Linked DNA regions of Homo sapiens. The protein of the gene in region 1 interacts with the protein of each later gene in a biochemical or structural test. Each region holds a gene or a part of one and is shown on either strand. Other genes may lie near its edges.

Evidence for each region.
Region 2: the proteins of MECOM (region 1) and SMAD2 form a complex in vitro, tested with the Homo sapiens proteins (one study listed by BioGRID).
Region 3: the proteins of MECOM (region 1) and SUV39H1 form a complex in vitro, tested with the Homo sapiens proteins (one study listed by BioGRID).
Region 4: the proteins of MECOM (region 1) and SMAD3 form a complex in vitro, tested with the Homo sapiens proteins (2 studies listed by BioGRID).

What each region holds. Positions count from the first base shown.
Region 1 is NC_000003.12:169,660,674-169,667,570, reverse strand, and holds the start of MECOM (histone-lysine N-methyltransferase MECOM), read left to right. Parts: upstream 1-3,858; 5' UTR 3,859-4,198; coding exon 4,199-4,235; intron 4,236-6,408; exon of another isoform or gene 6,409-6,735; intron 6,736-6,897.
Region 2 is NC_000018.10:47,920,648-47,927,699, reverse strand, and holds part of SMAD2 (mothers against decapentaplegic homolog 2), read left to right. Parts: intron 1-7,052. UniProt on the Homo sapiens protein: Receptor-regulated SMAD (R-SMAD) that is an intracellular signal transducer and transcriptional modulator activated by TGF-beta (transforming growth factor) and activin type 1 receptor kinases.
Region 3 is NC_000023.11:48,706,708-48,709,542, reverse strand, and holds the end of SUV39H1 (histone-lysine N-methyltransferase SUV39H1), read right to left. Parts: intron 2,107-2,835; coding exon 1,973-2,106; 3' UTR 527-1,972; downstream 1-526. UniProt on the Homo sapiens protein: Histone methyltransferase that specifically trimethylates 'Lys-9' of histone H3 using monomethylated H3 'Lys-9' as substrate. Also weakly methylates histone H1 (in vitro).
Region 4 is NC_000015.10:67,187,602-67,194,601, forward strand, and holds part of SMAD3 (mothers against decapentaplegic homolog 3), read left to right. Parts: intron 1-2,811; coding exon 2,812-2,935; 3' UTR 2,936-7,000. UniProt on the Homo sapiens protein: Receptor-regulated SMAD (R-SMAD) that is an intracellular signal transducer and transcriptional modulator activated by TGF-beta (transforming growth factor) and activin type 1 receptor kinases.

The DNA.
Region 1 (6,897 bases):
AGAACAGTGAGTTATTGCAATGAATGAAAATTGTTTCCATTTTGGCTAATTGAGCCGGTGGCCGAAAGCTGGAGCCCTGAGACTAAATAAAGAGGACTGTTTCATTTCAACATGAAGAAACCCCTGCCTAGCTCTGGTCACCCAGCGAGAGTTTAATTTCTTAACAGCCAACCTGAAACCCAGCATTGGGTAAACAGTATTAATAATTGCATTACAATGATTAAATTAATCTTGCTGGTAGCCAGGAGAATATAGGTTGTGATTGAATAGCATGATGTAAAGTTCACTGCACAAAGACAATAGGCCTCGAAATACCTCCATAAAGAATTCAAACTTTCTTCCAAAGATACCGTGGGGCCGGTTCAATTAAAATGAGAGGAAAGGAAAACTTCCTGTTGCATGTAATGTATTGAAAATCGGTTATTTGCCATTTCTAACATTAATTTAAAAAATATAGTTGGGGAAGGGATATACTTGTCTGTGTCTTTCTCATCAATGTCCCATTTTCCTTCTAACTTCTATCTCAATCTCTTCACTTCTGCTAAACAAACAAAAACACGAAACAAAAAGTGACAGCAATAAAACAAGCAAACCCAGACAGTCTGTAAACCCATCGACTTTCCAACGAGGCACTGCTTCCAGGATGCTCGCTTCCGTGGGAGAAAACACAAGGAAACGTTGGAATGCATGCTACTGTCCCCCAAGAAAACGAATTTCAGGAGGAGAGGGAAAGGCGAGAGGTGGGGTGGGGGCGGGTAGCTAGGGCAGCTCCGCCAACTTGTTGGAGGCCTCTTTTCTCTTGGGCCAGCGACAGCTCAGACATCCCGTCAGAGGGTGTCGGGAACTCTAGGGGCTGCTGAACAGTCACCTGCTCTGGTCTCACGGCTGGGACTGGGACAGGTGGAAGTGACAGGGTCCAGGCACTTGAGAATGGGAACCGGCCGGGGCGGACGCGCAGAGGTCGCGGCGCTATCAGCCGCGAGCGCGACCGGTTGCTGCTGGGTGTTTGCTCCATCAGGTTAAACACACTTGAACTAGCAACTTAGCTCTTTATTAGCGCACACTTAGGGCAGAAAGCTAATGATAAAGAAAGAAAAAGAAAAGGAGAGAAAAGGAAAAGAAGCCCAGCTTTTAGGTTTGAAAATAAAAAACGAATGATATTGAGAATACTTTTATTTATTTAAAAGACGATGTCTTGTCTTTTCACAATGGCTTGGTCTGGGGACAGAGAAGAGTTTGCGTTTATTATTTGTTAGAAGGGGTTGGATTTTCTCGTGGCCCGAAACTGTTAGAAAGACCAGGGAGAAAGCTGGAGCGCTGAAGCGACAGCGGAGACTTCAAACCAGAAGGGGAGGGGTACTCCAGCCGCGCCTCATTCCGCCTCCCACTCCGCCAACCCCCCTTCTAGAAAAGTTTAAAAGACGGGGACCTTTAAATTTGGAGGTTCGGAGACTCCGATTCACTTCAGTCTTCCACCTCCCACCCAGTTCCCCTCACAGAACCCACCCCCTACCTCCCCAACCCTCCACGTGGTTTATAATTTCTCAGCAGCAACAGCAAGCTCAGCTTCACATGTGGGTCTTGCATTTAATCTCAGAGTTTGGTACCTTGGTCCCCTCCTTTCCTAGGAACATTTCTTGCACCCCTCTTAACCTCCCGTCTCCAAGGGAACCTAGACATAGACAGACCCCCTGGGGATGAGGTGAAAGGGATTAGCCGGAGGAGTGGAGGGGAGGATGGCGGTTCTTTTCTTTTTTCTTTTCTTCTCTTTCTTTTTTTTTTTTAAGCTACCTTGGCGGTTGGGCACCAAGGCAAGGTGCTCAGCCACCCCTGGGGTGCCTGGCAGGGAAGGTGAGGATTGGAGGGACAAGACCTAGATTTTGACAGCTGGGATCTTCAGGTGCTGCTGGTCTGTCCCCTGGCCTAGGGGATGGTCCCTAGAGAGTCTCTTACACCGATCAGAAGCAGCCTTATGAACTTCTTGCCAGTCAGCCTAGTGTTTGTCTCTCCCTAGAGATTTTGTCCCCCCTTCCAAAGCCTCTCAAGACCCATTTCTCCGTTTCCTCGGAGGACATTTGCTGGTCAGAGGGTAGGCACCTCTCCATCTAAACTGAGGGAAGCTGGTGGAGTCACATTTTGGGGGAAGTTTCAGAGTCAAAGACCTGTGTGAACCTAACAGAATGTTGGAATGGCTGGTGCTTTTGCACACACCAAATGTGTTAGCACACTCACCTTTATGCACAGGACAGCGGGAATTCTAGGTCTGGAAAAAAACCCAGGTGCCTCTTTAATTCAGAGTGGATAATAGAGTTCTCTTGTGCCCACGCGTGTGGGCACTAGAGCCTTCTCTTTTGGAAGTTGTTTTACTCCTGTTGTGAGTAATTCCCTCCTTTACCTTCCTACTTCCCTTCCTCACATTTCAACCTTATACATCTGTCTCCCTTGAGACCTGTAGCTTGGTTCTCCAGGGACCTCTATCTTACAGCCAAATGCCCCCAGAATTACACAGCTCTGGATAAAGGAAAATGGTAGGCATCCTTAACAAGGACAAATTCTTTGAACTTTGATTCTCTTGAATAAAGAGATTTGCAGGCCATTGATACCCTTTGGGGTTGAACCTTGTTATTTGCTCTCTCATGTCTGCAGTCCTAGATTTGATAATAAATACCAACAGGTACGACTGGGCATTCTCAATGATTCCCCTTTCCCTCCACAGCCTTTGCCAAACTCATGCCCAGGACCTGCTTTTCTTTTCCTTTAACTTGAACATCAAGGATGTATTGTTGCAGCACGGAGACTGAAAAGATTGTAATTTTCTTTTATGGTGTCTGGCAGGATTTGCAACAGATATTAATGGGGACATAAATAGCACATGGAAGGTATTGAACAAAACTGTTTAATGCAAGAAGGTTGTACCAAAAGAAAATCTATACCTAGTTGGGATTGATTCATACCTTGTACACAGCTAGCCCCTTTAGGAATTCCCATTTCTGAGTGGCACTTCATTGGTAAATCCTGTAATTAAAGGAAATTTCAACAATGTATTTTTTTAAGAGTGTGTGATTTTCCTCCCTACTCCTCTTTCTTTTGACCCCGAGGTTGTAGGTTTAAGCGAGTGAGTGAAAATGGCAGGCAAGCAGAGCTGCATCGGGAGGCGACCGGGGCAGCAGTGGGGGAGGCCGGAAGGTGACAGCCGACCTCTGAGAAAGCAGGAGGTCTTTGGATGTCAAATGCCAGCGCCGGCCCGGACCCGGGAATCAAGGGTGATCATTACTACTTGGTAGGGAAAGAATACTGAAATGTCCCAAGGATGGCAGCAAGCATTGGTATTACAGCTAAAATCGAGGAAAAAACCAGTTATTTATTCTGCTTACAACCCTGAAAGCGGAAGCTGCAATAGCTTCAGTAGCAGTAGCAGCGGCAGCAGTAGATTTCTCAAGTTCAGGATGATTCTCACTTTCTCCTGGATTATTAGCCGAGGGTCCAGCCCTTCTAGTTCTTTAACAGGAGAAGGGTTTTTAAAAAATGTTTTTAAAGTTTTTTTCCCCCCTGGCTTCTTGCTTCCCTCGTAGATGGTATAGAAAAATGTCTGCAATTTATGGTGGGAAAAACAATAACAATAATCATGATACAAGCTTGTTGGCGATTCTAACATGGAATCAATCCTCTGCCCAAGCCTTTTCAATTCCCCCCTCCCCTTTTTTTGGGCGAGGTGTCTGCTCCCCTCTGGCTCCCTGCGTTCGCTCCCCGCCCCCCGCCGCCCTCCCCGCGGCTCCCTTTCTCCGCCTCCTCGGCGATTGCCATCTGACAAGATCTCCAAATCAAAGTGATAAATCGCTCCAAACTTTTTTTGGCGGCGCTGAGATGTTGGAGGGGCGTCTAGCGCGCATGTGCGAAGGTGTCCAAACTGACAATGCTGGAGAGATAGCGAGTGTGGATTGAGAGAAAGGGAGAGAGGGAGGGAGAGAGAGTGAAAGAAGAAAATACAGAGAGTGAGTGTGTGGAAGAGAGAGAGAAACAGGAGAGAAACAGGAGGGAGGGAGAGAGAGAGAGAGAGAGAGAGAGAGAGAGAGAGAGAGAGAGAGAGAGAGAGAGACAGGAGAGAGAGGGAGGGAGCGAGAGGGAGAGCAAAAGAAGGAAAGGATCCAAGAAAAAAAAGCCCCAACCACACACCAGCGGCTGCAGGACTGGGCACAGCATGAGATCCAAAGGCAGGGCAAGGAAACTGGCCACAAGTAGGTGCAATATCCCTTTTCTATTGGCTTTTCCCCCTCCTCTGCCATCTTGCATATCTGTCTCTAGCGCTCCGGGAGGGAGCGCGGGCTGCCTCTTGCGCCGGGGCCCCGGGTGGAGGGCAGGCGGAGCGCAGCCCCAGCAACCTGCCGGTTCCAGTCTCTGCTCCCGGTCGCCCGCGCTCTCGCTCCCGGGTTGGGCGCCGGAGGAGCCTGGGCAGCCCTCAGTCCCGCGCACCGACCAGCTGTGGCAACCCCGGGGTGGGGGTGGGGGTGGGGGCAGCAAAGACTAGGGGTGGGAGGGAGGAGAGAGCGCGAGAGTGAGCGCGAAGGGGTGGGGTGGGGGGGAAGAGAAGAGGAGAAAGTCTCCCCCTCCCCTCCCCTTCCCCCCAGGCGGGGGAGAGTTGCCTCTGGCCAACCAGCTAGTCCCGGGTGTGGGAGGAGGGGGGCGCGGGGGATGGGGGGCCGGCAGGAGAAGGGAGCCTTTTCGAGCCTCGGTTTGTTTCTGGGGTTTGGGTAGGGTAGGCGGCTCAGAGGGAGCCACAGTGGCGGCGGCGGCGGGCGGCTGTGGTGGACTTGGGAAAAGTTGCGAGGCGGCCGCTGGAAGTTGCGCGGGCGGGCGGGTGGACTGCGCCGAGCCGCGGCTGCGGTAGTGGGCGCTGTGCGCTCGGCCATGCTCTCCGGCGCGGCGCTGCGCGGCGGGAGGACTGCGGCGGGGAGTAGGGGACACCAAGGTGGGGGCTGTGATCGCGGGGTGGGGGCGGGGGCACGGGCAGAGCAGAGCTACCGGCTCCGCACAGCCACGCGCAGGTGGGGAGGAAAGAGGCCCAGCGAGCGCTCGGACGTGGGGAGAGAAGAGGCCCAGCGAGCGCTCGGAGAGCCGGGAGTGGAGGGCACACAGCCAGCGGCGGCAGCCTAGGAGCAGGAGGCAGAGAGGGCGCGCTGCGACCCGCGCACCTCGGGCTTGCTGGGCGCCGAGCAAACCCCAGGGGGCGGGCTGCCAGAGCGTTGGGCCGCGGAGAGGGCGCAGCGCAGCCTCCGGCGCTTCGTCTGGGTGCAGCCTGGGTCCAGGGTCAATAACCCTCCCCGGCGCCCCCTGCCTGCCCGGCGCGGAGCGGCCTTGGTCTGGCGGGATGTGGGCTAAGGGGTTTGGGGAGGGGGCGGTGGGAGTCCCATCCCCCACTCTTACAGCAAAAGTGTTGGATGACTCGCCTGGCTTTGCCGGCGGGGCCCACACTTTCCCACACGGTGTGATGCTCCGCCAGGACTGTAGACGACAGGACTGCGTTTGTCCAAATGCTTCTACTTCGAGTTGAAGGGGACTCAGGGACACTGAGCCCCGGAGCGGCTGGGAGCGCTCTTCCTTGAGGTGTCAATAGGCGGGGCTGGAGCTGCCTCGGGAGTGGACAGGCCGCGGTTCTCTCTCCCACACTCGCACTCGCCGAAAACAAAACTCTCTAATTGTGTTGTTTACGGAACGCAGAAATGAGAGATCGGAGATGGGTGGGATGCTTCTCCCCAGTGAAATCCCAGTCTCCCCCCGCGCGACCCTCGCACATTAGAACCAAATACGGTAGGTATCGTATCCACGCCTCCTTGCTCACTGCGTCCCTGCAGCAGCCCGGGAAGTCGGCGGCACCTCAGCAGGCTCGGCTTCGCGGGCATTGGAGTCGGCGGTGTAGCCCCGCGAGATGCTGTCATCCCAGGCGCCTTTCCAGTGCTTTGTGCAGTCCTCACCCAAGCACTCGTACACTCCCCGATACATTTCCTTTCCCCTGGGTCTGAGAAATCAACCTAAATATAGGGCTCTTTGGGTCATCAGTCCATCTGTTTCTCTTTTGGGTGTTGTTCTTTACACTCGCTGCTACAGTGTCAAAGGGCGCCGGTGGAACTGTTTTCCCTGTTTGCTTTTAAATGAGGCCGATGTCTTTATTTTCATCTGAAGGGAAATAAATGTACATATACTTGAGGTTTGCGGGCTTCGATTTGGACTAAAGGTTGGGAGAGAGAGAGAGTGTGTGTGTGGGGGGGGGAGTTGGCGGGAGTGGGATGGTGGGTGGGGGTGGGTAGCCCTTTTCAACCATGCCTAAGTTGTGAAGTGAAAGCTTAAGGCTTCGCGCCGCAACTCACTGCCCGATAACTTCTGAAGTGAAAGCAGAACACAAAACCCTTCGAATTTTCTTGAGCAACTTTTTCAACTATTTTAATTGCCAAGCAAGACATACGATGCCGTCTTAAAATATTCCCGCACGCACAGTCCACTCAGCATCCAGAAACTGAGCCTCGTTTCCGATCTGATGATACTTGTCATTCAACTGGTGGGAGACCCATTTATTTTGTCCCCAGGGTCTCTAAGGATGCCGCTGCCGCTTTCTGATAGCTAGATCTCAACTCTTACAAACTTTTACTGAGCCTCAGATTCCCGCTTGCACTACTCCAGCTGTTGCTGCCGCAGCTGCCTTTCCCAGACAGAAGCGCTGCGTTGCAATTCTTCAGTTACAATCTGGGTAATAAAGGAAATCATATTAAAACTACAGATTTTTGTATTTTAAAGCGCGATTTCCTTCCCCCGAGTAGCGCGTGGCGGAGATGGTTGGTGACCCCTGCGGTGCAATCATCCAACGAAAACTTCACTGCTCTGCACCAGTTTTTCTTTTTCTGGGTT
Region 2 (7,052 bases), on another chromosome or scaffold:
TCGAACTCCCGACCTCAGGTGATCCGCCCACCTCGGCCTCCCAAAGTGCTGGGATTACAGGCGTGAGTCACCGCGCCTGGCCGATGCATTTATTTTCAACAAATACATTTATTCATTTATTCAACAAACAGCTTTTTCTGTGTGTCAGGCTCTGGACTAGGCAATAAAGTCTCTTAACAGCAAACAAGTACACCCCTGTTCCTTAATGGAGTTAGAAAAGTGGAAACTCATGTCCCTTGCCCTATTCTCCAGTGTTTAGAGTAAGACAGTTGTTAGTGTACAAATCAAGGGCACATGCATTACTGAGCCATTCCTAAAGTGAGCTTGCCTTGCTTCCTGTAACATGTAGCAGATAGCACTAGGGAAGATGTGAAGTGTTACTCAGTGTCACTGGGAACAATCTGTGTATTTTGGGGGGACCTTGGCACCAGTTTTGCACAGTCTATACAAACTGAAGATACGGCCAGTCTTTCAGAAACATGTTTATTGCTGAACAGATGTACACTTGTAGAGCTAAGCTTCATCTGACCTTAATTTGATCACTTATTGCCCTTTAATTACAGAAGCTGGTTAAGGAAAGAAAGCAGAGTTGAATAACTCAGTGAAAGGATCGGGAATAGTGTAAAAAGTTAGTTAAACCGAGACCCAGGATTGGACAGCAGTCTCATGTAGTGGAAAGGCCTTGGGTTTTGGAATCAGAGAGCCCTAGCCTAATATTTTGTTTCTCAGTTACAATACTGGGCAATTTACTACCAACCCCAGGCCCTTGGTTTTCTGACACAAAATGGAAGTACTAACCCCTTCCTCTTATTCAGTGATCACAATTCAAGTACCTAGAACATTGCCTGAGATATAAGGGTCCTCCCAAATGATTTCTTCCTCTCTTGTAGTTGTGGGTTTGTTACTTGGGCTCTTTCTAATCCAAATGATTTGCCTACACTGTTATTATGGACCTATTGTAAAATGTATTTGAGAAGCAGACAATGAACAACAAAGGCCTGGGATAGCCAAATTGTCCCAGTCCATAGCTTAAAGCTTAGGAGAGCCTTGGAGACCCTTAATAAGAATGTGTTGGCATTTATTTAAAGTGTTTCTAACAAGCAAAGTTATCTGGCTTCTAAACCTGCACTAGATTAGAAACAAGTAGATTATGGGTACTGTGGGAGGCTTAGAGGGGGTGTGGTGGGGGCTGGGGAGTAGGATGTTAGCCTAGTGTCTCTTGTCAGAAAAAACAGATAACAGCTCGGTGAGGATAATAGAGATAATCTACAAGACACAAAAATAGTCAAAGCCTGACTAGCATGTCTGGGGCCATTGAGTGCAGGACCAGACCTGAAAGCATAGTAATGAATGTTCATCAATTAGCCTAAATCATGTTTGGGAAAATCTTTTTAAGAGTGCAATAATCTACGTAATATACTTTAGATTGTCACTCAGGATGATTAAGAAATGTTCTTAAAGGGGTTGAAGATTGTGCTATAGCTTATGGCTTATTTCATGAAAGATCACAGTAGCTGTTATGACCAAGATGTTTTTCATTTGTTTTGCCATTCAGACAGCCATTCAGATTCCAAGCTGAAAGGGTAGCCAGCAGTAAAGAAAGGCTGTTTCAGTGTGGTAGCACCCTATGTCACCCCTTTCTTTGGTGTAAGTAATTTTTTTGTCAGTCTGCAGGAGTATCATATAAATTTTCACTTGTGCTTTGACAGTAGTGTATGCTTTTCACTGTGTTTTGAGATAGAGTATGCTCGAGATTTCTAGGATAAAGCAAGAGTGGATAGTTGGCCAGTCTCTCTGTTGAGGGTTTCTTGACTCTTGTCATGTGACTTCTGCCCAGTATTAGCACTGATAATTTTTTTGATCCCCTTTCTTGTAACCTTACCTCAGGGTTACTTCTTAAACCATCTACACCATCAGATAATTATTGGTGACCTTGTAATATGTAGCCTTGGCTGTTTTTAAGAATCAGGTTTTTTTTTAGCAGTAGTACAAAAGTACTAGCCTTTTTGGTTTAAAAATGCATAGTTAGAGGCTTATTGCTTGTCATTGATCAATTTTGATCATTTTTTCAGGTTGGTGTAATTGTGATGTATTCAGTTAGGACATAATTCAATGTTGATTCTAGATTTACATCTCAAAGATAGCTCGCAGCTTCAGTTCAGCAATTTCATGTAGGGAGAATATAATTTTTCCAAGCCAGGTGGATTTAGACACTGCCTTTAGTTTGGTCAGATAGCCAGAAATATTAGGGCAATTCTGTGTCTTCTGTGCTTGCCTCACATTGTACAGTGTGAGTGGTTCTCCTTGGCTCAGTGGGTTCCTCTTATTTGTAACTGAGGCACATTGATAGGACAGGTGCTTGATGTATCTTTAGGTTTGTAGTCTTAAGAAAATAGAAATTCTGACGTGATTAATTCTTATCAAAGTTTGTGAATTTACTGTGAAATTGTCACTAATTATCCTAGGTAGCCCTGTCATTTTTCAAAATCTGGTTTTACATTGGCCTCAAGGCTGTAGAGTAGTGGAAAGCGAGGATAGACTTTAGTTGCTTCTGTTTAGTACACGTGTCTACCTTAATGTAAAAATTTGCATTTCCTTGAATAATCTACAGTGTCATACCTTCCCTCATTTTGTGGGGAAGGGGGATGTAGTTTCACATTTAATGTATTCAGTAGGAATAATCTTGGGTGAACCACTGGTATTCCATCTGTTCATTAGTTTGAGTCTCTTAAGTCAAAAAAGACTCTTGATCTGAGGAAGTAGCATAGTGAATCTGTGATCTTATAGTTTGCCTATGTTTAAAAGTAAACTACATTTTCATATGCTGCTTCAGCTACTTCCAGAAATTCTGTAGAGACATAATGGTTAAGGTCTTGTAAATATCAAGGAAACGTTCCATCCTCATCACGTCTTTCATTTCAGAATGTGAGGTGGTGAGGCCGGAGGCAGTGGCTCACGCCTGTAATCCCAGCACTTTGGGAGGCTGAGGCGGGCGGATCACTTTGAGGTCAGGAGTTTGAGACCAGCCTGGCCAACATGGTGAAACCTTGTCTCTACTAAAAATGCAAAAATTAGCTGGGTGTGGTGGCGGGTACCTGTAGTCCCAGCTGCTCAAGAGGCTGAGGTAGGAGACTTGCTTGAACCGGGGAGGCCGAGGTTGCAGTTAGCCGAGATCCCGCGACTGCTCTCCAGCCTGGGAGACAGAGCAAGACTCCGTCTCAAAAAAAAAAAAGAAAAAAAAGAAAATGTGGGGTGGCAAATCTTTTTTGCAGAGCCTCCTATATAAAATCCTCATAAATGATGCAGTGGAAGCTGGGCCCGTGAGCCTTCTGCCTTGACTTGAGTGAACTATTGAAACTCTTTTGTTGACTAGAGATACTTTATCTGTGGTAGTAAATGTAAATTTTCCTTATTGAGATCCACTTTTAAAATTCTTTTTTTTTTTTTTTTTGAGACGGAGTTTTGCTCCTGTTGCCCAGGCTGGAGTGCAGTGGTGCGATCTTGGCTCACTGCAACCTCCGCCTCCTAGGTTCAAGCAGTTCTCCTGCCTCAGCCTCCTGAGTAGCTAGGATTACAGGCATGCGCCACCATGTCCGGCTAATTTTGTATTTTTAATAGAAACGGGGTTTCACCATGTTGGTCAGGCTGGTCTCGAACTCCTGACCTCAGGTGATTCGCCCACCTTGGCCTCCCAAAGTGTTGGGATTACATGCGTGAGCCACTGCGCCCGGCCTAAAATTCTTAATAGACAGGTAGTTAGGTTGTAGTTCATGTTAGCTGATCAATTAAACTTTTTTTTAAAAAATGTTTTAGTTATCAGGAGGGTCCAGCTTTGGCCTGAGGTTGTGCATTGGCCATTTCTGCTCGAAACCAGTAGTAGTCAGACTTAAAACATGTGCACACCTGCACACACAGCAGCAACTAGAAAGCCTTTAGAGAGAAATATGCAGAATTTCGAAATGTAAAACAGATAAAAGGAGTAAAGCTGTTTTGTGGAAGGAAGAATAGGCAGTTGTTGAAGTCCTGCCTGATCAGTTTTCCTCTCATCCTCACCACCAGGAAGCCTTTGAAGCACAGCTGAAGAACAGTAGGTCTTGGAGAAATTTTTGCTGTAGACCTGCTCTATCTTAACAGGTAGCTGCCAGCCACATGTGGCTATTTAGCACTTGAAATGTGGCTGCTGTGACTGAGAAACTGAATGTTAAATTTTACTTAATCTAAATTTAGATAGCCATATGCAGCTGATGGCTACTGTATTAGACAGCACAGATACCCAAGGACATTTACATCATTGTATAAAGTTGTGTTGGGTGGCACTACTCTAGACTTTGCTTTAATTGAGCTTTTATGGCCTGAGGACCCCACTCACGTGAATTGACGTGGTATTAGTTGCTGCTTCAGAAGAGGGTCAGGATAGACTTTGGGAATTTGAAGAGCAATTAGAGTACTTGTACTTTATATTTGTGCTGATTTGAGTCTGGGCCTGTGTAGTGTTGTCATAGGTGCTTTTTTTTTTTTTTTAATAATCTGGGAATGATAAACCAATATGTAAGTTACGTGTTTACAAGTTGATTATAGAGTTGTGGATTCCACAAAACTCATTATAGGTGATAGGAATATAACTCTTAGTTAAAAAAAAAAAAATAAGTAGTCTCTTTACACAGCAGTCCCTATTTAATGTGGACTTTTGCTAAAATAATAATTTTCTTGAATTAAATTCAAGCTTGCATTAGGTTTGACAGTCCATAAAGTTGAACACATGAATGTTTTCTGTTTGCTTTTGTTTAAAAGACATGACCCATCATTCTCCATGGGGGCCGACCTAGGTTTCCAGTTGGCAGTGTCTTTCCTTACTAGCTTACGCTTTGGAGAGAACATAGTTGTAGTGAGAATTGAAAAATCTGTTTTTAAAAAATTGGGTTTTATGTATTTTAATTTTTTTGAGGTTTTCTATTATCCTGGTTACTAATGAATTATTTATTTGACTAAAACAGTTATACAATTCCAGGTCATTGATGCTGCTGTTTTTTTCTCTGCCTTGTAGTATGTTTGAACATAGATTGCTAAAAATCTCGGTCTCCACAGAGGATTGGTTCCGGGACTCTCCTGCAAGCACCAGAATATGAGAACGCTGAAGTCCCTTGTATAAAATGGTGTAGAATTTGTTTTATGCACATTTTATTGTTATTCTTTAAATCCTCTCTAGATTACTTAATATCTAATACAATGTAAATAGTTGTTATTCTATATTGTTTTAGAAATGATGAGAAAAAAGTCTGTACATGTTCAGTACAGTCACAGTTTTTTCCTGAATATTTTTTATCCATGGTTGGTTTAATCCATGTATTTGGAACCCACAGATAAGGAGGATTGACTGCACAGTGATTTTATATTATTTCTAGTGGGACCTTAGATGTTCTAGATGAGGCAGCACCATCATATTTAAAGTATTTTTGTTGAAATAATTAACTTTGGTTTTCTTTCTAAATAAAAATTCACATAGGTATTTGGGGAATATTTTGTATTTTCCTGCAGTTTGAAGATTTGAAATTTCTCTTCCCTCCATACCTTTTAAAAGTGCAATCTACTTTTGCTTTCTACATTTAATCACTATCTGTTCTTGACTTCAACTTTGCAAACATATTTTTTAACCATTCTTTTTCACATTTCCCTTCCTACTGGCCTTCCGGATGAACTGTCAAGTTTAGCAGTCTTTTCTCAGTGATCATACTTTCTTCAGTGTTTGCTGTTATTGTTTATACTGTCTTTATCTAAATTTCTTAAAATGACACAGACACAAGTTAGGCCCATTCTTCTTACTGTAAACAGATGAAAATGTTGGATAAAATATAAAAGTTTTCTCTTATGTATACAGTTGATCTTGAGAGAGAAAGTGCCCAGGTACTAGAAACTTAGAAAAATCAGTCAACTTTAAGGGAAGTGTGGCCTTGGGGGATTTACTAGAGATAAGATTCAGTAGTTGGGGCTGAGGTTATAATGCCATTCAATGAAAGGAGACAGAACTGTGGGAACTGTGTGCTTAAAAAAATTAAAAAATGAAAAGTGTTCTGGTATCATTGAAACATCTGGGGCTTCTTGGAGAAAGAAGCCTCAGACCTCTCTATGGAGGAACTGGAAAAACAGTAGGCTTTAGATGGACTTTAATATCACAGCAAGGCAAGGCAGGGTACATGAAAACATCTACAGCTGCATGTGGAATAGTGAATTTTTGTATACATAATCCATGACTGCAATCCAAAATTCAGGGATACCCAGTGAAGAGTCTCTTTACTGGTCTGTTCTTTGCCATACAGTTGCCTTTTCAAAGGCAAGTAGCTTTACTAGGTTTTTGTGTGGTGTTCCAGAGATTTTATGCATCTATGAACAATTTTGTGTGTATATTACCTTTTAGTACAAGTGGTCACATATGTCACTTAATAGTACATCTTATTTTGTGTCAGTATGTAATGAATGCCTTTCTTCTTTTTTGGAGTAGTGGGTTGTATAATATTCTTTTGTATGGGTGTCTGTAAATTTTTTTTTGAGACAGTGTCTCACTCTGTCACCCAGGCTGGAGTGCAGTGGTGTGATCACAGCTCACTGCAACCTTGACTGCCAGGGGTCAAGTTAATCTCCCACCTCAGCTACCTGAGTAGTTGGGACTGCAGGCGCATGCCTACCATATCCAGCTAATTTTTAAAATTTTTTGTAGAGGTGGGGTTTCGCCATGTTGCCTAGATTTGTCTTGAACTCCTGGGCTCAAGCGATTTGCCTGCCACGGCCCCTCAAAGTTTTGGGATTACAGGCGTAAGCCACTGTGCCTGGCCGGGTGTCTGAATATATCATCAGTCCTCTGTTGAATGTTTCCAGTCTTGTGGTATTAAAAACAATGCTACAACAAATAACTTCGTTTATATAGCATTTTGCTCCTTTGCAGGTATGTCTGTAAGATAGATTTCTAGGAGTAGTTCAAAGAATATCTACATTTGTAATTTATTTTAGAGAATGTACTTTATTCATTTTTTCGAATAACACATGCACATGGTATAAAA
Region 3 (2,835 bases), on another chromosome or scaffold:
GTCAATTTAATTGCATTGTTTTGAGACAGGGTTTGGCTCTTTTCTGGAGACAGACAGGCTGGAGTGCAGTGGTGAGATCTCAGCTCACTGCAACCTCCACCTCCCAGGCTCAAGCAATCTTCCCACCTCAGGCTCCTGAGTAGCTGGGACTACAGGTACAGGCACATGCCCCCACACCTGGCCAATTTTTGTATTTTTAGCAGAGACGTGGTTTCACCATGTTGCCCATGCTGGTCTCGAATTCCTGAGCTCAAGCGATCTGCCTGCCTCGGCCTCCCAAAGTGCTGGGATTAAAGATGTGAGCCACCACACCCAGCCTTAAGTGCATTTTAAAGTTTAAGTATAAAACAAACTTATTTTAGGTCAAGATGTTATATAGATGATGGTGTAAGTGATATGCTGTGGGGGCTGAAATTGTGAGGATTAGAGTCAAATGGCTGAGGTTTGAGGAACATGTTCCTGGGCAAACCCAGCTCCCAGCCTCTATCCCCTCAACCCCCACCCACACAAGCACCTCACATCTTGGTTTGTTCAGTCGACAGTTCATTTTATTGATGCCCACTCCAGGCTGCATAGGGTTGAGGGGTGTACAAGAGGAGAACCAGATTCAGTCCATGCCTGGAGGTTAGTCTGGGGGGCCGGCGGGATGGACACACAGACAGACACATAGATCTGGCATCTGATAGCAGGGCATACAGTCTCATGTAGGGGCACTCTGGGCACAGGTAGTCAGGAAGGACTTCCTAGAGAAGTCCTCACAGGGGGTGGGGGAGCAAGGAGCAAGGCAGCCATCAGAACCTTCGCCTTTTGTACATTTGTAGGCAGGTGACTTTTGAGACCAGTGGAACCAGGGTGAGCACAAAGGGCTGGGGTCTGGGAATGGCAGGCAGCAAGGGCTTCCCTCTCGCCTCGTCATCCCATAGTGGGGAAGCCATCTCCCCCACCCCCAATTCTTGGCCTGTACTTTGCCTTCTGCCACATGGGCCCTTTCCTGGCATCCACCTCCGTGGTTTTCAAGGCTTCCCTGAGACAATCCACGTGGACCAGGTGCTCTACCCAGTGCCTGGCACCTCATCACCACCCCATCAATGCACATTCTTGTCCTAAGTGCTATCTACGGACTATCTAGATCTTGGTTCCAGCTCTGAGTGGTGTCAGCGGTCATGACACCCCAGGTCAGGGCCCCTAGCAACCGCAGAGCTCCCAAGAGCCCTAGGTACCTTCACTGCACTGTGAAGGCAGAGCTTGGTCCCAGCCTACCTCCAGGGCTGGCCAGCTCTGCACTGCCTTCCTCTCACTGCTCAGTGGCCCATGGACACCCACTTCCCTTCCAGTGGCATGTGGGCATCCACTTCTCAGATATGCAGCCCTGAAGAAGAGACCCTACAGCTCTTAGGGCCAACACTACCCAGCACTGTAAGCACGAGCAGAAACCAGCCTCAGCCCGTAGCCCAGGGACCCCCTTTCTTTCACTAGTACAAAGTTTCTGTGGTTGGGGAACCAGCTTCATGTCGGGCTAGGCACTCTGGCCTCTGATGTCTGCCTGCTCTGGGGTTGCTTCCCCATACCTTTGGGGCAGCAGGGAGGAGGCCTGCAGCAGACCCCTCAATCTCCAGGCAGAAGCAGGTGCAAAAACAAATATATTCTGGGGCTGGGTTGGGACTCACCCCTTGGACCTCCTTAATAGGCCATGAATCCCAACGACAGAGAGTCTTGATGTTGAAAAACTATTTCTGAAGGTGGGTGGGGGTTTGTAAGTGCAACCCACAGATGGGGCTGGGACAGGGAAAGGGGACTCCTGGAGTCGGTCCTCACCACGGCCACAGCCCTGAACGTAGAGCAGGTAGGAGCAGGTGGGGGCAGGTGGAGGCAGGCGAGGCCCTGGCAGTCATTCTCGACAGGAGGGCAGCAGTGGGGGAGGTGCATGTAGCTTCAGGCCCCCTCAGTCAGTCTGGCCTCAGACTTCTAAGGGCTAGAAGAGGTATTTGCGGCAGGACTCAGTCCCACACTTGCATTCAATACGGACCCGCTTCTTAGGGGAGCCAGGGAGCCCAGCCAGGCCAAAGTTGGAGTCCATGCGGGTGCTCTCCATGTCCACGGGGTCCACTGTGGAGTCACAGCCAGGGAGGAGAGGAGGGAAGGAGGCAGGGAGGGAGGGGGAGAAGGAGGGAGGGAGGAAGGTAGGGAAGGAGGCAGGGGACTTGTTAGAAGGCCTGGATGAAGGGTCCCACTACCCTTTATACCATGAGACCAAGGATCTTTGGGGCTGGGAGCAACTCTGGGATTTGAGTTGGGAGATCTTAGGGTTGGTGGTTTGGGGCTAGGGCCAGGGCTCAGCACTGGAGGTTGTTCAGGCCAGGGGTTGAAGAATGCTGGGGGAGGCAGGGAGCCGTCAAGGAACCAGGAGGGTCGTTTTAGGTGTGTGGGGGGGGGCAGGGGCAGGAATAGAGGGCCACCTGGGCATCCAGAGGTACATCTGAACTCTCCTGCCAAAGACCTGCCCTTGAGGGTCTCAGAGGTGGCTAGCTTATCAAGGAGGGGACTGGCTGGAGGCCACAAGGGTGTCCAGAGGCTTGGGATGAAGAAGGCCAAAGGGAGCTAGGAGTGGGGAGGGGCTGGGGGATGAGGGAAACTCAGTCAAGACTGGAGTCAGGAGTTTCTTAACTCTCCAGGAATCTTGGGAGAAGTTGGTATGAATGCCTCAGGGTTAGGGTTCAGGGGCTGGGAATGAGGGGACTCGAGGGGTAGGCAGGGGTCTAGTAGTCCGAATGGGGGACTGGGAGTCAGGAAGAGCATCTTAAAGCTCCCGCTAAAGAATTTTCCTTGGTTCTCTGA
Region 4 (7,000 bases), on another chromosome or scaffold:
AGCCCTAGCGTCAAGAGCAGAAAGACCAAAGATCAGAGAGAGGCCAAGGCCTGGCAGGCAGGAGGGGCCGGGCCAACAGCAGATGATGAGGAATTGCAGAACGATGTTTGCTGGCACCGAACAGCTGTAGGCACTGTAAACACACGCTCCATCTTATCCTCATCCCAGCCCTGGGTGGGGATGCCAGCATCATCCGTACAGATGAGAGAACTAAGGCCCAGGGAGGGAGAGTGACTTGCCTGCAGTCACACTGGTAGAAGAGCTGTGTCTAGAACTCTGCCCTCTTGGCTTCTTCCTTAGTCTCATTTTAGGCAGATGGCTTTAGGATGACCCTCTTCAGGAAGTTAGGTCTTCAGCTCATTGTTCCTCTCCTCCTCTGTTGCTCCATTTCTGACTCAGGGACCCTGGTGATGCTGAGGAGCCCAGGATATTAAAACTGAGAGTCCGGGAAGGGAGGAGGAGATTTGGGTAGTTATAAAGGAACAAAATTTTCTCGCTGAGAAATGACTTTTTTAGAGTCCTACATACTGGTTTCTTTTTCTTTTTCTTTTTTTTTTTTTTTTTTTTTGAGATGGAGTCTCACTCTGTCATCCAAGCTGAAGTGAGTGGCACCATCTTGGCTTACTGCAATCTCTGCCTCCAGGACGTGCCTCAGCCTCCCAAGTAGCTGGGACTACAGGTGCGTGCTACCACGCCTGGCTAATTTTTTGTATTTTAGTAGAGAGGGGGTTTCACCATGTTGCCCAGGGTGGTCTCGAACTCCTGAGCTCAGGTGACCCACCTGCCTCAGCCTCCCAAAGTGCTGGGATTACAGGCGTGAACCACCATGCCCGGCCCTAGATACTGGTTTAAACATGGCCCTGATATAGTCAGGTCTACCTGGTCTGCTTGGTTGAATCTCTCAGGCCATCCTGCTTTGGGTTTAGAGAATCCAGTCCCTTTTCTTTCCACTCACGGACCAAAGTTTGCGGAGAGGCAGGGCTGTGTGCCCCCGCCTTCTGCTCCACACTCCCCCCTGCCAGCCGCCAGCTCCTGCGGCAGATGCAGAGGTGCCCACATGTCAGCTAGAGCCAGCGCCTTGCAAGCTACTCTCCCTTTCTCTTCATTTTTCCAGATGTTTGGAATCCATTTTGTTTTGCAGTCATGCTGCACTCAGGCCAAACCCATTTCAATATTGGCCTTGGGCCACCGTTTGTAATGAAATCCAGATGAGCATGACTTATGGAAAGTCAGATTCTCATTAGAGGATTTCATCCTGTAAAATCCTCCTCTTCCACTTACCGTATTTTAGCTGCTGTTCTTCTGTGTCTGCCCCAGGGTGTCAGGGAACACAGCCCCTTGGTTTCTTGGGTGTCTCTGAAATCCAGGAGTGACCAGTGGAGCAATCAAAGTGGTCAGACCTCAAAAGAACTTACAACTATGTTATGGCCTGAAGAGATCAGCCCAGGCCCAAAGGTCTAGCCAGAGAAATGTTTTAAGCAATCTTTTAGCCCTGGCTTAGCTCATTTAGGGAACAGGAGTGAAAGGTTAGAAAATTAATCTTTTTTTAGTGAAGAAGGGAAATATTTAAAGATGGACTGCAGTGGAAAAGAGTAAGGGGATGTCCATTTGCTCTTCTTATACCAGACTGTAGTCTGGAGGGCCACACTCAGGTACCCTCGCTCGTGCAGACACCCCAGGGTCTGTCTGCAGGCCCATTTCTCAACCTCCCTGCTACACAAGCAAAGTAGAGGCCAAGCAAGGAGGGTGGTGCCTTCAAGACAGCAACACTGTTCCTGGTGTGGCATTGCAGCTCTCCCGCTCCAAGTGCTAGGAAGAGGCTCTTTGGTGGCAGAGCCTTTCCCTGGGGACACTATCACCACGCGGGATGTCCTGCCAGCACACCCAGTCCTCTGTGGCCCACCGCGTCACCGCTGCCTGGCAGCACTGCACAGCAGCCTGACGGGCGGGCGCGGCCCCTTCCCAGAACAGCCTTGTCGTCCTCCTGCCTCTTGGGCCAAGGAGAGTAAGGTTTCAGCTCTTCTCTCTGTGAGGTGGCTGAAAGCAGGGCCCAGGGCCCACACCTCTCACCTCCAGCTGGCACCAGCGACTCCAGCCTCAGCAGATAGCCTTTGCTCAGTGGAGGCCTTTGGGAGCCTGCCTGCAAGCTGCGTCATCAACCAGCCTGAATTTAGACAAAGTGCTTTGGGGAAAAGAAACGTGTGGTGTGCCTTGTTTTTTTCCAGTAATTGTTCCATGGCTCGTTCTGCTTGTAAGATTTTCCAAAATAAGGCCGTAGATGAGAATTATATCAGCACATTGGGAACCGAAGGCATGCGGACACTGTTGGCGCTTTGTAAAAAACACCCCTCAATCAGACAGACACACGTCATCGTCGCCTGCTGGGGCTGGGCCCAGATTTCGAGATAGGGGAGCGGCACGTGCCCGTTTGGTACAGATGGGAGCCAGGAAGCCCTTTGCTCAGGATGGAGGTCTCCTCTATTAGGGGGCCTGTTACAGTAACTGGTGGGCCTCTGGGGTACCCTGCAATTGACTTTACATATTTAACTCTTTGCCATTGACTTTACATGTTTAACTCTTTAAAGTCGACTTCCTTCCCCCTCAAGAGAACTTAATTTACTCAAAGTCCTCCCTGGGTAGAGGAGTTTGGCCGGGTAGTTTCAGCAAGTTACTGGTACCGCTTCTAGGACAGCGTCTAACAGCATCTTTGGGAAGATGACTGTCACCAAAGCAGAAAAAGCTTTCTGACTTGTGTAACCCCCTGGAGATTTTTTAAGTCCCCCACCCCACCCCTTTCCCTATTTCTTACAGGAGACAGACTGTGACCAGTACCCCCTGCTGGATTGAGCTGCACCTGAATGGGCCTTTGCAGTGGCTTGACAAGGTCCTCACCCAGATGGGCTCCCCAAGCATCCGCTGTTCCAGTGTGTCTTAGAGACATCAAGTATGGTAGGGGAGGGCAGGCTTGGGGAAAATGGCCATGCAGGAGGTGGAGAAAATTGGAACTCTACTCAACCCATTGTTGTCAAGGAAGAAGAAATCTTTCTCCCTCAACTGAAGGGGTGCACCCACCTGTTTTCTGAAACACACGAGCAAACCCAGAGGTGGATGTTATGAACAGCTGTGTCTGCCAAACACATTTACCCTTTGGCCCCACTTTGAAGGGCAAGAAATGGCGTCTGCTCTGGTGGCTTAAGTGAGCAGAACAGGTAGTATTACACCACCGGCCCCCTCCCCCCAGACTCTTTTTTTGAGTGACAGCTTTCTGGGATGTCACAGTCCAACCAGAAACACCCCTCTGTCTAGGACTGCAGTGTGGAGTTCACCTTGGAAGGGCGTTCTAGGTAGGAAGAGCCCGCAGGGCCATGCAGACCTCATGCCCAGCTCTCTGACGCTTGTGACAGTGCCTCTTCCAGTGAACATTCCCAGCCCAGCCCCGCCCCGCCCCGCCCCACCACTCCAGCAGACCTTGCCCCTTGTGAGCTGGATAGACTTGGGATGGGGAGGGAGGGAGTTTTGTCTGTCTCCCTCCCCTCTCAGAACATACTGATTGGGAGGTGCGTGTTCAGCAGAACCTGCACACAGGACAGCGGGAAAAATCGATGAGCGCCACCTCTTTAAAAACTCACTTACGTTTGTCCTTTTTCACTTTGAAAAGTTGGAAGGATCTGCTGAGGCCCAGTGCATATGCAATGTATAGTGTCTATTATCACATTAATCTCAAAGAGATTCGAATGACGGTAAGTGTTCTCATGAAGCAGGAGGCCCTTGTCGTGGGATGGCATTTGGTCTCAGGCAGCACCACACTGGGTGCGTCTCCAGTCATCTGTAAGAGCTTGCTCCAGATTCTGATGCATACGGCTATATTGGTTTATGTAGTCAGTTGCATTCATTAAATCAACTTTATCATATGCTCTTTTAAATGTTTGGTTTATATATTTTCTTTAAAAATCCTGGGCTGGCACATTGACTGGGAAACCTGAGTGAGACCCAGCAACTGCTTCTCTCCCTTCTCTCTCCTGAGGTGAAGCTTTTCCAGGTTTTGTTGAAGAGATACCTGCCAGCACTTCTGCAAGCTGAAATTTACAGAAGCAAATTCACCAGAAGGGAAACATCTCAGGCCAACATAGGCAAATGAAAAGGGCTATTAAAATATTTTTACACCTTTGAAAATTGCAGGCTTGGTACAAAGAGGTCTGTCATCTTCCCCCTGGGATATAAGATGATCTAGCTCCCGGTAGAGGATCACCGGTGACAACTATAGCAGTTGTATTGTGTAACAAGTACTGCTCCCAGCAGCAATTAGGGAGAAAACTAGTCTAAATTATTTCAACTGGAAAAAAGAAAAAAGAGTCCTCTTCTTTTCCCAGCCTTTTGCAGAACACAGTAGACAGAACTGCCACCTTCAATTGGTACTTTATTCTTTGCTGCTGTTTTTGTATAAAATGACCTATCCCACGTTTTTGCATGAATTTATAGCAGGAAAAATCAAGGGATTTCCTATGGAAGTCCTGCTTTATTCCAGGTGAAGGGAAGGAAGTGTATATACTTTTGGCAAGTCATACAGCTCAAATGTGATGAGATTTCTGATGTTAGAGGGAGATGGAGAGGCTTCCTGATGCCTCATCTGCAGGGTCCTGTGCCTCTGAAGTTCTAGCCATGAGGTTTCCAGGTAGGACAGCTGCTCCCCAAGCCTCCTGAGGACACAGGAAGAGACGGAAGGAGCACCTTGACAGACTTGTGTGAGTCTTCTCGAAGGAGGGTTGACTCAGAACCCAGAGACAATACAAAACCCCTCACTTCCTCTGAGAGGGCCAAATGCTGTGAGTCTGAAGTATGTGCCTGGTGTGAAATGATCTATGGCCTGTTTCTTACACAGGAAGCCCCCTGAACCTCCTGTACATGTGTTCATGTTCCCAGCCAGCTCTGAGACCCAGGAACCAAATATTCCATTTTGGCTTCTGCTAGAGCAGTCATGGTTCCTCTCCTAAAAGCCATGGGCAGCAGTTTCCGAGGGCCTGCATGATCCACCTGCTGCACGATCCTATGAGGGCTTCCTGTGGCACACAGCCCTCTGGGTGCTTGGGAACTAGCTTCAGGCACAGCCTGATTCTGGTGATCCAGTGATCTATGGAAGTCGTGTCTTACTCCAGGTGAAGGGGGAAAAAAAAAGCCTATACTTTGGCAGGTTATGAACTTTGAATGTGATGAAATGACACGTTTGGCTGCATTTGGATGGTGTCTTAGAACCCTCATTGCTCAGACCTGAAGGCTACTTCTAGGAGCATGAAGTTTGAGTTTTGTGTTTTTCCAAAGGATACTTCCTTGGCCCTTTTTCTTTATTGACTAGACCACCAGAGGAGGATGTGTGGGATTGTAGGCAAACCCACCTGTGGCATCACTGAAAATAAATTTGATCATACCTAAGAGGTTAGGAAATGGTGCCATTCCCACCTTAGAGTGCTACATAGGTGCTTTGGGCGTATGTAACATTAGTGTCCTTCCTTGAAGCCACAAGCTAGTTTTCTTAGTTTTAAAATCCTGTTGTATGAATGGCATTTGTATATTAAAACACTTTTTTAAAGGACAGTTGAAAAGGGCAAGAGGAAACCAGGGCAGTTCTAGAGGAGTGCTGGTGACTGGATAGCAGTTTTAAGTGGCGTTCACCTAGTCAACACGACCGCGTGTGTTGCCCCTGCCCTGGGCTCCCCGCCATGACATCTTCACCTTGCAGCTTGTGCTGAGACTGACCCAAGTGCAGCTAGCACTGGGACACAGATCCTTGTCTTCAGCACCTTCCAAGGAGCCAACTTTTATTCCCTTTCCTCTCTCCCCTCCCCACCTCGCTTCTTCCCAATTTAGTAACTTAGATGCTTCCAGCACATACGTAGGTAGCTACCCCAGCCGGTTTGGATTACAGGCCTGTGCTGGAACATCATCTCAGTTGGCCACCTTCCTGGCAGGCTGTAGACCTGACATTTTGAGACAAGCCTAGAGGAGTCAGGAGCAGGGACTTTGACTCTTAGGAAGAGCACACATGAGGGCAAGGCTGCTGGCAGACGTCTCCATTGTCCTTATGTTGTCTGTGTTGTATTTTTTTTTTTTTATTGACCATGGTGATTATTTTTTTAAACCATCGTTAATATACTGAAGTGAGCTATAGCACATATCATGTGCTTAGTTTGTTTATTTTTCTCCATCTCCCCTTGGCTTCCTAGAGTTTGGACATATTCCAGGCTAAATGCTTTTACTCAAGACTACAGAAAGGTTTGAAGTAGTGTGTGCATGGCATGCACGTATGTAAGTAATCTGGGGAAGAAGCAAAGATCTGTTTCATTCTTAGCCTCAGGCCTCATGAGGGTCTCCACAGGGCCGGAGCTCAGGTTACACCACTCCTTCGTCCTTACAGGAGATGTAGGGAGAAGAATCTGCAGGCTGCTTGTAGGACTGTTCACCAAGGGGGATACCAGCAGCAAGAGAGTGCACCCGTTTAGCCCTGGACCCTGTTTCTTACTGTGTGACTTGGCTAGAGTTGGGAGTTCCCCCAAAATAAACGTGTCCCCATTTTACCAGAACCAAACCTCAACACAGCGAAGCTGTACTGTCTTTGTGTGGCAAAGATGTTCCCTTGTAGGCCCCTTTCAGGTAACCGTCTTCACAATGTATTTTCATCACAGTTTAAGGAGCATCAGCCGCTTCTCAAGTGGGTAGGGAAAGCAGAAAAACGTACGCAAGAGGACATGGATCCAAAATGATGATGAAGCATCTCCCATGGGGAGGTGATGGTGGGGAGATGATGGGCTAAACAGGCAACTTTTCAAAAACACAGCTATCATAGAAAAGAAACTTGCCTCATGTAAACTGGATTGAGAAATTCTCAGTGATTCTGCAATGGATTTTTTTTTAATGCAGAAGTAATGTATACTCTAGTATTCTGGTGTTTTTATATTTATGTAATAATTTCTTAAAACCATTCAGACAGATAACTATTTAATTTTTT